2 separate regions of the Homo sapiens genome follow, and region 1 is linked to region 2. Evidence: fine-mapped expression QTL. A gene starts in region 2. The other region holds a variant in brackets. All regions are shown on one strand. Distances are from middle to middle.

Region 1 (5,366 bases), 90 kb before region 2:
TTGAACTCGTGAGCTCAAGCAGTTTGCCTGCCTCGGTCTCTCAAAGTGCTGGGATTACAGGCATGAGCTACCATGCCTGGCCGGGCAGTGAGAGACCCTGAGAGTTTGACACAGGTGAGTCGCCATCTGACTTTTTTTTTTTGAGACAGAGTCTTGCTCCTTCACTCATGCCGGAGTGCAGTGGCACGATCATAGCTCACTAGGCTCAAACTCCTGGGCTCAAGCAATCCTTCTGCCTTGGCCTCTCAAAGTGCTGGGATTATAGGCGTGAGCCATCGCACCCAGCCTTGACTTTACCTTTTTGAGAGAGAAAGAGAGACGCTGCCCACTAGATAGATTCTGGAGGACCAGCACCTTTGGAAAGACCTGATTTCCTTCCTTAGGCTCTCCATGCTGTTACCACCCAGCCAGGGGAGGCAAGCCCTGGGATGTGGGGAGGAGGAATGGCTGCCCCTGTTTCTTGCCCAGGGGTCAGCTGCTGAGGGGGAGTACCATGCTAAGGGTTGCCCACAAGAAATGCTGATGGAAGACCAAGTTGAGGGGGAAAGTGGAAGCTGGGCTGGGGCGGTGGAGGACACTGAGGCCCTGGGTCAGCAGAGCAACTCTTTCCGGCCAGGCCTTGGGGATGGGACAAGCTTGGCTGTGCCTGCAGCTGGGCTCCTTCCCTGGGCACCCGAGCTAGAAACTTAAAGGAAGTGTGGACCGGTGCTAGGGAGGAGGCTGGCCTTTAGCTGCAAGTCCTGGTTGAGAGAGAAGATTCCAGTCATGTCCTTTGCAGCAACGTGGTGCAGCTGAAGGCCATTATCCTAAGCAAATTAACACCGAAACAGAAAACCTACATACCGCATGTTCTCACTTATAAGTGGGAGCTAAATATTGAGTGTGCATGGGCATAAAGATGGCACCAACAGACACTGGGGGCTACTAGAGCAGGGAGGGTGGAAGCGGGCGAGGGTTGAAAAACTATGGGAGCTATGCTCAGTAGCAGGTGATGGGATCCATATTCCAAAGCTCAGCATCACGAAACATACGCATGCAACAAACCTGTACGTCTATCCCCTGAATCAAAAATAAAATGTGGACATTTTTAAAGAGAGAGACAGGGAGAAAGCTTCCAGCTAACCATCAGGAAGAACTTCTAGCTGGTAGTTAGAGAGAAAAGACTGCAATTAGAAATGAGAAGGAACTAACTTCCAGGCTCTGATTCGGAAGGGCGGACTGCAGGTGAACTTCAGAGCCTCTGCGTTATAGCTTGGGAGAGAGTCTGAAACGGGACCCAGGGAGAAGAACTTCCCAAGCCTCTGAGGATCCAAATCCTGCCCGTGGGTGCCTTCCCAGCCCAAAAGACAGCAACAAGGCAAGGAGGGGATTCTTCAGCCTCTCCTGGCCACTTCCATCTCTAGGAGCCTCTGTGGCTAAGACTGTTTTTTCTTACCACTTCTTGTTCCTCTGTCCCTCTGCAGCTGGGCTGAGTCAGCCCCTCCCTGCCCCCAGCTGGGCAGGGGGCACTGTTGAAAGGGAGGGGATCAAGGAGGATGGAGGTTTGGCTGGATTCTCAGATTTCTGAATCCTAGGCTCCTAATTTCTGGAAGCGGACCAAGCTGCCTTCTGCCTGCCTCAGGAACCCTCCCCTGCCCCTGCTGGGCATGTAAACCTCCCAGGGCACCTGTGCCATCCCTGGAAAGGGCTCATGGGCGTCTACCCAGAGGCAGCCTCTCTTCCAAAGAACTATGAGTGAGAGATCAAGAGGTGGGGATGGGCGAGGCTCCCTGAGAAGGGTGGACGTAATTGTCATGATGGCAGCGGGTTCTTCCTGAGCTCTTCCTGGGAGTGGGGCGCTGGGCTAGATGCTTGAAGCACATCACCCCATTCATTCCTTGCAATGGGCCTAAGCCCCAGGCCCACCCCCTGACTTCTTCCCTTCCTCCCATCCTCCCCACCAAAGGGGGCATGGAGACAAAGTCCCGGTCCCCTCCCCATCTAGGCCTGCTGGTTCTGGGTGAGTGGATGTTCTCCATCCCAGGAAGGTGGAGATCTGAACAATTCCCAGTGGAATCTTTGGGGACCCTCCTGTTGCTCCTCAGAGCTCAGTTCCAGCCCCCAGAATCGTAGTCTTTCCAGCAGCCTCCCTGGACCCTCCCTTCCCTGCTGCCTCAGCCATTTCCCTGTGCGCCTCCTCCTCCAGGGGAGCCTGCTGACTCCTGCCCTTTTCTCTTCCCCCACGGCCCCCCTTGTGGTCACTCTGGGGGACAGAAAGGTGATGATTCAGCCCTGAGGCAGAACAAACACTCCCCACAGACAGGCCACTTCTTTCCCCAGGCCTGGGCAATGAGGAGAGGCTGGGCTGAGTCCCCAGTGAAGGGGCAAGGCTCCGAACCTCATGGGGCAAGGCAGAGGAGGATGGGAGGGCAGGCACTTAGCACGGGCATGACCATCCTGCCCCCTCCGCTCCCATGGGTGGACACCTCGGCCTGGAGCTAAAGGGTCTGTGAATGGGTGTAGGGGAGGAGGGTAGCTGCAAGTCTTCTCGCAGCCTTGCATGGGCTCCAGGGGCAGCTGAATTTCCTGGACAGGAAGTGTGGAGGTGACATGTTCCAAAAATGGTCCCGTGGAGAGGGGATACAGAGTTCCTAAACCACAGCCAAGGGGGCTGGCCAGCCCAAGGCAGAAAGGGCCGCAGGGGGCCCTAGGCTCTTCTCTGGAATCTCTGCATGACTGTCCTGGCAGCTCTGTGGGCACTGCGAGGCAGTTTTCAGTTCCATGTAAGGAAGAACTTTGCAAACATTGGAGCTGCTCAGAGAAGGAAC[A/G]GGTGGCCCCGAGAGTGAGTAAGGTCCTGTCCCTGGAGGTGGGTGGGCTGGGCCAAACAACCGCTTTGGGTGTGTAGTCAAGGAGATGATGCCCGACCTCAGACCTCCCCCTCCTTCCACCATCCCAAGAGGCATGAGCTAACTCTGGTTCCCCAACGAACTTCCTCCTGGGACAAGAGTGTGCAGCTCCCATCACAGAGACTGTCTCGTCCAGCACCCCGCTCAGTCCTCTATGTGCGTTGTGGTACGGAATCCCTCACAACAGGCTGTTAATGATCCCATTTTACAAATGGAGAAGAGACTCAGACACACCAACTTTCTCATCATCCCATAGCCAGAGCTTGGCAGAGGCAGGATTTGGACCCAGATTCACTGAAGTCCAAGTTTCTGGTGCTTAAACTAGACCACCAGTGGGCTCTTGGCATGTCAGAGGAGGAGGGGCTGTTAGAGAACACCCAGACCCATGGTATAAGAGGGGAAACTAAGGCCCAGAGAGGACAGCGAGTCAGCTGAGGTTACATGGCAAAACAGTGTCAGAGCTGGACCTAGATCCGGAGGTATTGACCGGGGCTGCCCTCAGAGCAGCCTTCTCATGCTGAGTGCTGGCAGGAGTAGAGATCCCGATCCATGTGCCCCTGGGGCTCCCCCAACATCCTTCCCACCCTGCCCACTTCAAGCCCTCTTCTCACAAAAGCCCCAAGGGGGTGTGGGGAAGAAAAGGTAGCCAAGGGGACACAAGATGGGTCATTCAGTCCTTGATCACACCACTCCCTTGTTCAAACCCACTGATGGCCTTGGACCGACAGGGTGGGGTCCAACCCTTCAGACCCCCAACCCCACCCTGGTCCTTCCCTCACCTGCACCTCTGCACACTCTGCCCTCTCCCCCAGAGGTACCCTTTCCCTTAGTGTCATCTCCCCTGCTGCATCCTCATCCTCCAAAGCCCGTCCCACCAATGCCAAGCCACCTCCTCCAGGCAGTCTCCCTTACCCACCAGCCTGAAAAGTCCGTCCACCTCTGAACTCCCACAGCCCTCTGGCCTGGTCCTCTCAGCTTCTGATCACATTGCACATGGTCTTTGTGTGGGCAGGCAGGCAGTGGAGGCCATGGGCTCTAGGGACAGAAGCCCCTGGGGCCCAGTGCCAACCCTATCCCTCAGCCCCTTGGGGTTTTTTTTTTTAACCTTGCTGAGCCTCAGCTTCCTGATGGGTAAGATACTGACTAGTATACTTCCTGCCTCCAGCTTCTTGTGAGGGTAAAATAAGATGAGTCAATGTTTCACATAATGATTGGGACATGCTTTGGAGTGAGTCCTCCTTCAGGGTTAAAAACCAGACTCTGCCTTTGACCAGCTGTAGACAAGGGCAACTGTCCCAACCTCTCAGAACCTCAGTTTACAACTCTGTAAAACAGACTAATGCTAGCTGCATACAGTGGTTGCTGAGGGCATTAAATGAGATGATGTAGGTAACATGCTATAGAAAAATGCCCCTCAAATCACTGTCATATACTGAGCAGACAGTGACAGGAAGCACACTATACGCAACATGCACTAAATTGTGGCTTTGGCTAATAGGACAGTAACATGAAATAATGAAGAGGATGATGGTCACAGGCCCTCGTCTTCACTAGACCATGTGCTTCTTAGGGCAGGGCTCAGGCCTGGCCCAGGGGACACCACGCTTGTATATCCATTTCCTCTGCCCCGTGCTGGGTGCCAGGACACCCCTGGGCTGAGACAGGATCCCAGGGCTGCGCTGCCTCAGAATGCCATTCCTCTCCTCATAGCCTCTCACTCTATAATCCATGCTCTTGCTTTCACGGCTTTTTGTTTGTTTTTTGAGCTGGGATCTGGCTGTATCACCCAGGCTGGTCCCTAACTCCTGGCCTCAAGCAATCCCCCTGCCTCAACCTCCCAAGTAGCTGGGATTACAGGTGTGCCCTTGCTTTAATGGCTATTTGATTAGCACCTGTCTCTCGCACTAGACAGTAAACGCTATTAGGGCAGAGCCTCAGAGGCCACCCAGCAGCTGACTCATGTTGGCATACAGTAGGCACCCACTAAAGAGCTGTTAGCTGATGGACTGACTGAGGAGGAGGAAGGGTGAATCCATGCAGCCTGGGGGTACCATCCAAATCTGGCTCACTCAGGCACCTGGCAGCCCCACTCCGCTCCGGCTCACCTGCTTATACTTGTACAATAGCAGCAGGAGCAGCAGCAGCAGCAAGGCCATGATGGACATGCAGGCGACCACCACTGGTGTGAAGAGGAACTCATCCGGGGGATGCGTGTGGGCTCCTGGAAGGCATGAAGCAAAGCAGTGAGCAGGCAGGGGTGCCTCCGAGCCCCCTGAGGTCAGGCCTGCACACTGCCTGGAACACAGTGGGTGCTCAATAAATGCTTGTTGACTGAATGAAGCATCCTCCACTGGAAGCCTCTGGAGCCTCTCCTGCACACCCTCCCCGAGAAAGGCAGAGAGGACGGCCTCTTCAGCTCTGCTCATGCCCAGCCCCAAACCCTGTCCAGAGTCACAGCCTCCTGTGGCTGGGGGTAGGGAG
Region 2 (5,366 bases):
CCAGGCTCTATGCCTGCATGAGGTAGGTGTTCAGGGACTGTATGTCCCTGAAGGCTGTGGATTCAGGGTCTCCTGCTTGGAGACAGGGGAGGACTGCATGACTTCAGAACTTGTCACTAGAGGCCTCTGTGCAATTGGGAGGTCACAGAGGGAAGCAGAGATACTCCTCCCTGCTTGCAATGGAGGAATGCTGCCTGGAGTAGCCACACGATGTCCTGGAAGGGCACCTGTGAGAAGGCTGGAGGCCTGGGTTCTAGTCTCACACTTGGGAGCAGAAGGTCTTCAGTGAGCTCCTCCTCCCTTTCACCAGGACATTTTTTCAGCCGCACTGCCTATCCAGGGCTGGGCACTGGGGGAAGAGCACAGGATGGGGAAACCTTAAACCTTTCCCCAGCAGAAAGTGCGGCCTCAGTTCTGACTGCTGGGGCCTGAACAATCTCTGATGAACAAACAGAACATAAACAGATCACCAACAGGGGAGGGCCAAGTAACATGGCTTCAGCACAAAGTGCATGGCTAGCACTTGGAAGACAGGAAGAACCTAGGAAGGCTGCCTGGAAGAGGTGGTGTATGGAATATCCCTGAAAGAAAAGTGATGAGGAAGGGCATTCCAGAAAGGGGGAAGAGGGAGGGCAAATGCCCACAAGCAGGATGGTGCGCATTCCTTCTGGGAATTCTGGGATCTGACTGGCGGGAACAAAAGGCCCAAGTTTGGAGTAATGGGGCACGGGGAGATTCCAACCTCTCCAGGCTGTGCCACTTACTAGCTGTGTGGCTACAGTTATGTGGCTGCGTGAGCCTCAAGTTCCTCATGTATAAAACGGAGGTAAAAACAGTCACTGCCTCTGGGGTTGCTGGTGAGCATTACATGAGATCAGTCTCATAAAGCACTCAGCACAGTTGCGGCGTGCAGTAAGTGTCAAGCAGTGGCAGCCTCTGTTAGGAGCTGGGACTTTCTCCAGGCACTGGGGAGCCATAGGCGGATCCTGGGCAGGGAGGTGGTGTGATTGGATTTATGCTTTAGAATGGCATGGAGAAGGGGTAGAGTCCAGAAGGAGGGAGACAACGAGGAGGCCTGAGCAGCTGCCTGGGACCAAAGGAAATGGCCCAGTGGCTGACCCCTTCTTCACAGAGGAGCCCCCAGATCTGACAGCCAGGTCCCAGCCCCCAGACCCAGCAGCATGACCGCTAGGGGGTTGCCATGGCCGCCCATCACCCTCGAACTTTCCTAGCCCTCAAACTTTTCTAGCTGCTGGGGGTTTAGAAGGATATCTTAAGAATCTAGAAAATTTGCAAATCCATTTAAATCCCCAGAGGTTGCCTGGCGGCTGACTGGCCTAAAGCCAGACTGATTCTTAGAAACAAGGCTTGGGCCAAGGAACAGCGGCTATGGTCCTGAGGTCCCCAGTCCCCTGCTTTCTGTGTACCCTGCCTACCTTCTCCCAATTCCCCTCTCCCGCTCTTCCCAGCTCTCCCCACTCCCCATTGACTGTGCTGTGCTTTGGAGGCCCCCAGTCAGCACCCAGAAACCCCTGAGGATTGTTTGATGAAGGCAGGAGCAGCAGGGATGATGAGGTGGAGGCCACTCACCCCAGAGCAGGGGAAAGGAGAAAACTGGCTCCTCCATCCCTGACATCACCCACAGTCTCCCAGCCTCCTCTCATCTTGTTTTGTTAAAAATATCTTCCCTTTTTTTTTTTTTTTTTTTTTTTACCTACTCGAAGAGATGCAGGTTAGGGCAAAGGGACAGGGCATGGGGCTGGGGTTCCCACTTTTTCCAGCACTTACCTTGCTGCTGATGGCTTCTGGTGTGGGCACAGTTCCAGGCTCTGGACAGTCACCCCCTCCAGGAAGTCCTCCTTACTGCCCTCTCCCAGTTATCAGAAAGACTGCTGGTCCCAGAGTGGGTAACAGCTGAGTAGAAGGACAGGCAGGACTGGTGCAGGCTCCTGAAGGCTCAGGAGAACAGAGGGATGGAGGAAGGGGGCTGCTGTAGGGGAGAGGAGCGGCCCAGCTTCGCCTCACTCCCCAAGCATCCTTCGGGAGGAGCAGAGCCGCCAGAGGGGCCGCCCTGGGTCTGGCTGTCTGCGTTGGGCAGGGCGAGCACAGGCTGCTGCTGGGCAGCAGGGCTGAGGGGCCGGCTCTCTCCTCCTCCTTGTTGATCTCCTCTCTGGCTCCAAGTTGCTCACAGAGCGATCCTGGGTCCCAGATAGGGCGGGCAGTCACTGCTGGCTGCTGGCAGCCTCAGGAGCTCACACCACTATGGGCTTCCATGCCCCCCCACTTCCCCCGCCACTTTGGGGGAAAGGCTGCAGGGTGGCTTCTGATTGGCCCAGCTGGGAGAAGGGGGGGCGGCGGGGCAGGGAGGGTGGACGCGTGCGTCTGTTTTCAATTTCAGTTTTTTTCCCCCTCTCTCTTTCTTTTCCCCCAAGTTTCTTGTTTTTCTTCTTTTCACTCTGCTTACTCCCTCCCATCGCCCGTTCGCTCAGGATGTGAGGGGATGCTTAGAAATTCCACAGCCCACGCCAGCCGCCAGCTGCTGAGTCACTTTTGTCAAAGAGTGGCCTCGGCCCCACTTTCCCGATGCCCATGTCGGGTGGCGGCCTCCCCTTGCCATGGCACCCAGGGAGATCATTTCTCAGTGCCTCAGTTTCCCCATCTGTAAAGGAGACTCTGATCATCTCTGTGGTTGATTCAGTCAACCTTCATTCATTGAACAAGCATACTGAGCATTTACTACATTCTAACACTGTACTGGGTGCAGGGGACAGTAGCAAGACGTGGTCCTGACCTCAGAAGCACCAGGCTAGTGAGCAAGATATTCATTGGGCAAGCAGGTGCCCGGTCGGCAGACAGGAGGCTGAGAGTGCATTTAGAAGGACCCCTAACGGAAGCCTGAGAGAATCAGAGAGCACTGCTGAGAAGAGGTGACATGGAGGAGATGGAAAGATCCTCCAAGATGATCAGCCGTTTTTCAGAAGGACAAACCAAGGCCCAGGGGTGAATTGGCACAGAGAGGGAATGTGATTTGGTCAAGGTCATCCAGCACAGATTGGATATCTCTGGATATTGACAGATACATTCCTTTTCACGTCTCAAAGCCCCTGGGGTGCAAGGAGAGGATTATTTGCCCCATTTTATAGATGGGGACACTGAGGCCCAGAGGAGCAAAATAAGCTTCCCAAGCTTACGCAGCAATGGCAGAGCTGGGGCAGAACTAGGTCTCATGAGACACATGATGGAAGAGACACAAGTCATCTGACCCCCACCCGAGACCCCTATTCCAGTGTAGATGAACCCCCTGCCCTGCTTTCTTCCTAGGTTCCCCCTGTGGCTCTTTCATTCAGTCACTCAACAAGATACTTTCTTTTTTTTTTTTTTTTTTTTTTTGAGATGGAGTCTTGCTCTGTCTCCCAGGCTGGAGTGCAATGGCGCAGTCTAGGCTCACTGCAACCTCCGCCTCCCAGGTTCAAGTGACTCTCCTGCCTCAGACTCCCAAGTAGCTGGGATTACAGGCGCACACCACCACACCTGGCTATTTTTGTATTTTTTGTAGAGACCGGGTTTCACTATGTTGGCCAGGCTGGTCTCAAACCCCTGACTTCATGATCCACCCACCTCAGCCTCCCAAAGTGCTGGGATTACAGGCTTGAGCCACCGCACCCAGCCTCAACAAGATACTTTCAAGTATCCGTTTTGTTCCATTTCCATTCTCTGGCTCTCCTTTCCTACCAGGGTCTGCCAAGACTCCTCCAGTTCCCCCAGCTGGGTCTCTTCTTCCACCCTCAGCTTCTCAGATCAGAAGACATCTCCAGTTACAGACTCCTAGCCCTCAGATGGCAAAGGGCATTATTTTAGAAGGGCATATAGAGTGGGCTTACCACCCCTGCTCCCACTACTGCACCCACAGGGCAACTGAATTCCAGAGGGTGAAGAAAGCTGTCCCAGGTGACACAGGTAGAGGCTGGCTCTGCCCTCCTTCCCTCTGCGCCGCTAAGTCTTTCCTCCTCAGCTTCCCCCAGACCCCTGTTCACAGAGCAGAGGATTTGCGTGAGCTGGGATTCCATGCCCACCACAGTCAACTATCTTGCATTTCTTGGTCTAGTCCCAATCGGGATTGCCCAGCAGAGCATCTGGGCTGGACCACATAGAAGGAGAAGTGTTCTCAGACTGGTTCCCAGCCACGGGTTGGGGACCATAAGAGTACCCCGAGAGAGGGGGCCTGGCCAGGTCTTTGTGGCAACAGGGAAATAGGGGAATGTGAAAAGATCCCACAGGCCACAAGGTCAGGCTTGCACAGGGATTTCTTGTGCCCAAAGATTCCGTCAGAAATTTACGACTCCCCTCCTAGCATCTGCCTGGGCCATTCACCTCTGAATCCTTGGCTGACCCTCTGCAGCCAGGCCAGCCTGGGGGAGGCCACGAGACACACCAACCCCCTAGTCCCCAAAGAAGCTAGTCTGGGAGTCAGAAGACCCAGCCACAGACTTATCAGGAGAACTTGAATAAGTCCCTTGCCCTGCCTGAGCCTCGGTTTCCCTATTTGTACATAACAGTTGTGGACTCACTGTGCTACAAGGCCCTTGGGATGGTCCGTCTGCAATTTCCCTTAGAGCTGGACTCTAGCAAGGGAGAGGAGGCTGGTGGGCCCTAGGGCAGGGGTACAGCTGGGGCCAGAGATGCAGCACAAAGGGGAGGGGCAGTTGGCGGTGGCTCCCCTGGGAAGCTGGCGGCCTCCAGTTTCCGGCCAGCCCAGCCGTCCTGAGGCCCATCTGGAATTACTTAGCCCCTACTGCCATTAACCCTTGGTGGGCACCAGGACTGTCACTCCTCCTCTCAACTGAGATATGGGTGGGAGGTGCAGAGCTACAGGGAGCAACCCAGGGCACTCACCAAGGGGCAAAATTGTCATGATTGACAGAGGAGGTTGGAGAGCTAGAGATAGAGCTGGGTTCGAATCCCAGCTGCTCCAGTTTCAAGCTACATGAGCTTAGGCAAGTCACTTAAACTCCTGGCCTTGGTTTCCTCCTCTGGAAAATGGAGACAAGTCAAAGACTGATTCATAAGACTCTTCGGTTTGTACAAAGGACTTAGTACATTGCCTCGAAGTGTACTAAGTGTACACTATTACTGAAATAGTGAGTTTCCTCATTCGAGCAGCATTCCATCACTGTGTCTTCCTGGGCGGAGCCTCCCTTTTCTGGGTCTTGGATTCCCCTTGTGCACTCTGCCTTCAGCGGCAATGGACGGGGCACATGGGCAGTGCAGCACCATCACCCTGGGGTGGTCAGCATGGCCCCCAGCCCCACTGTGGACAGGACAAGCTATGAACATCCTCACACCTACACAGATACTGGGAACCCAGT

Which allele goes with the higher level. Positions count from the first base shown, and alleles are read on the strand shown. Sizes are in standard deviations (SD) of each study's normalised expression.
With allele A in place of G in region 1, the expression in tibial artery of the gene that starts at base 2,237 in region 2 is lower (small effect, 0.26 SD a copy in GTEx).

The links. PIP is the estimated chance that this variant, and not a neighbour inherited with it, causes the effect.
Region 1: its variant is the best candidate, but not a certain one, in a credible set for the expression of PDGFRB in tibial artery (GTEx, PIP 0.59).

What each region holds. Positions count from the first base shown.
Region 1 is chr5:150,063,225-150,068,590 of GRCh38, forward strand. It overlaps CSF1R (colony stimulating factor 1 receptor), which reads right to left. Exons shown (of 21, transcript NM_001288705.3): 10 at 4,991-5,106. Among named protein-coding and RNA genes, the nearest start is that of CSF1R, 21 kb to the right of the region's middle. RefSeq lists a silencer at 1,611-1,786 and enhancers at 3,737-3,786, 4,713-5,366. The variant A/G (reference allele first, on the strand shown) is at 2,808.
Region 2 is chr5:150,153,609-150,158,974 of GRCh38, forward strand. PDGFRB (platelet derived growth factor receptor beta) reads right to left here and starts at 2,237. Exons shown (of 23, transcript NM_002609.4): 1 at 1,789-2,237. RefSeq lists an enhancer at 4,155-4,943.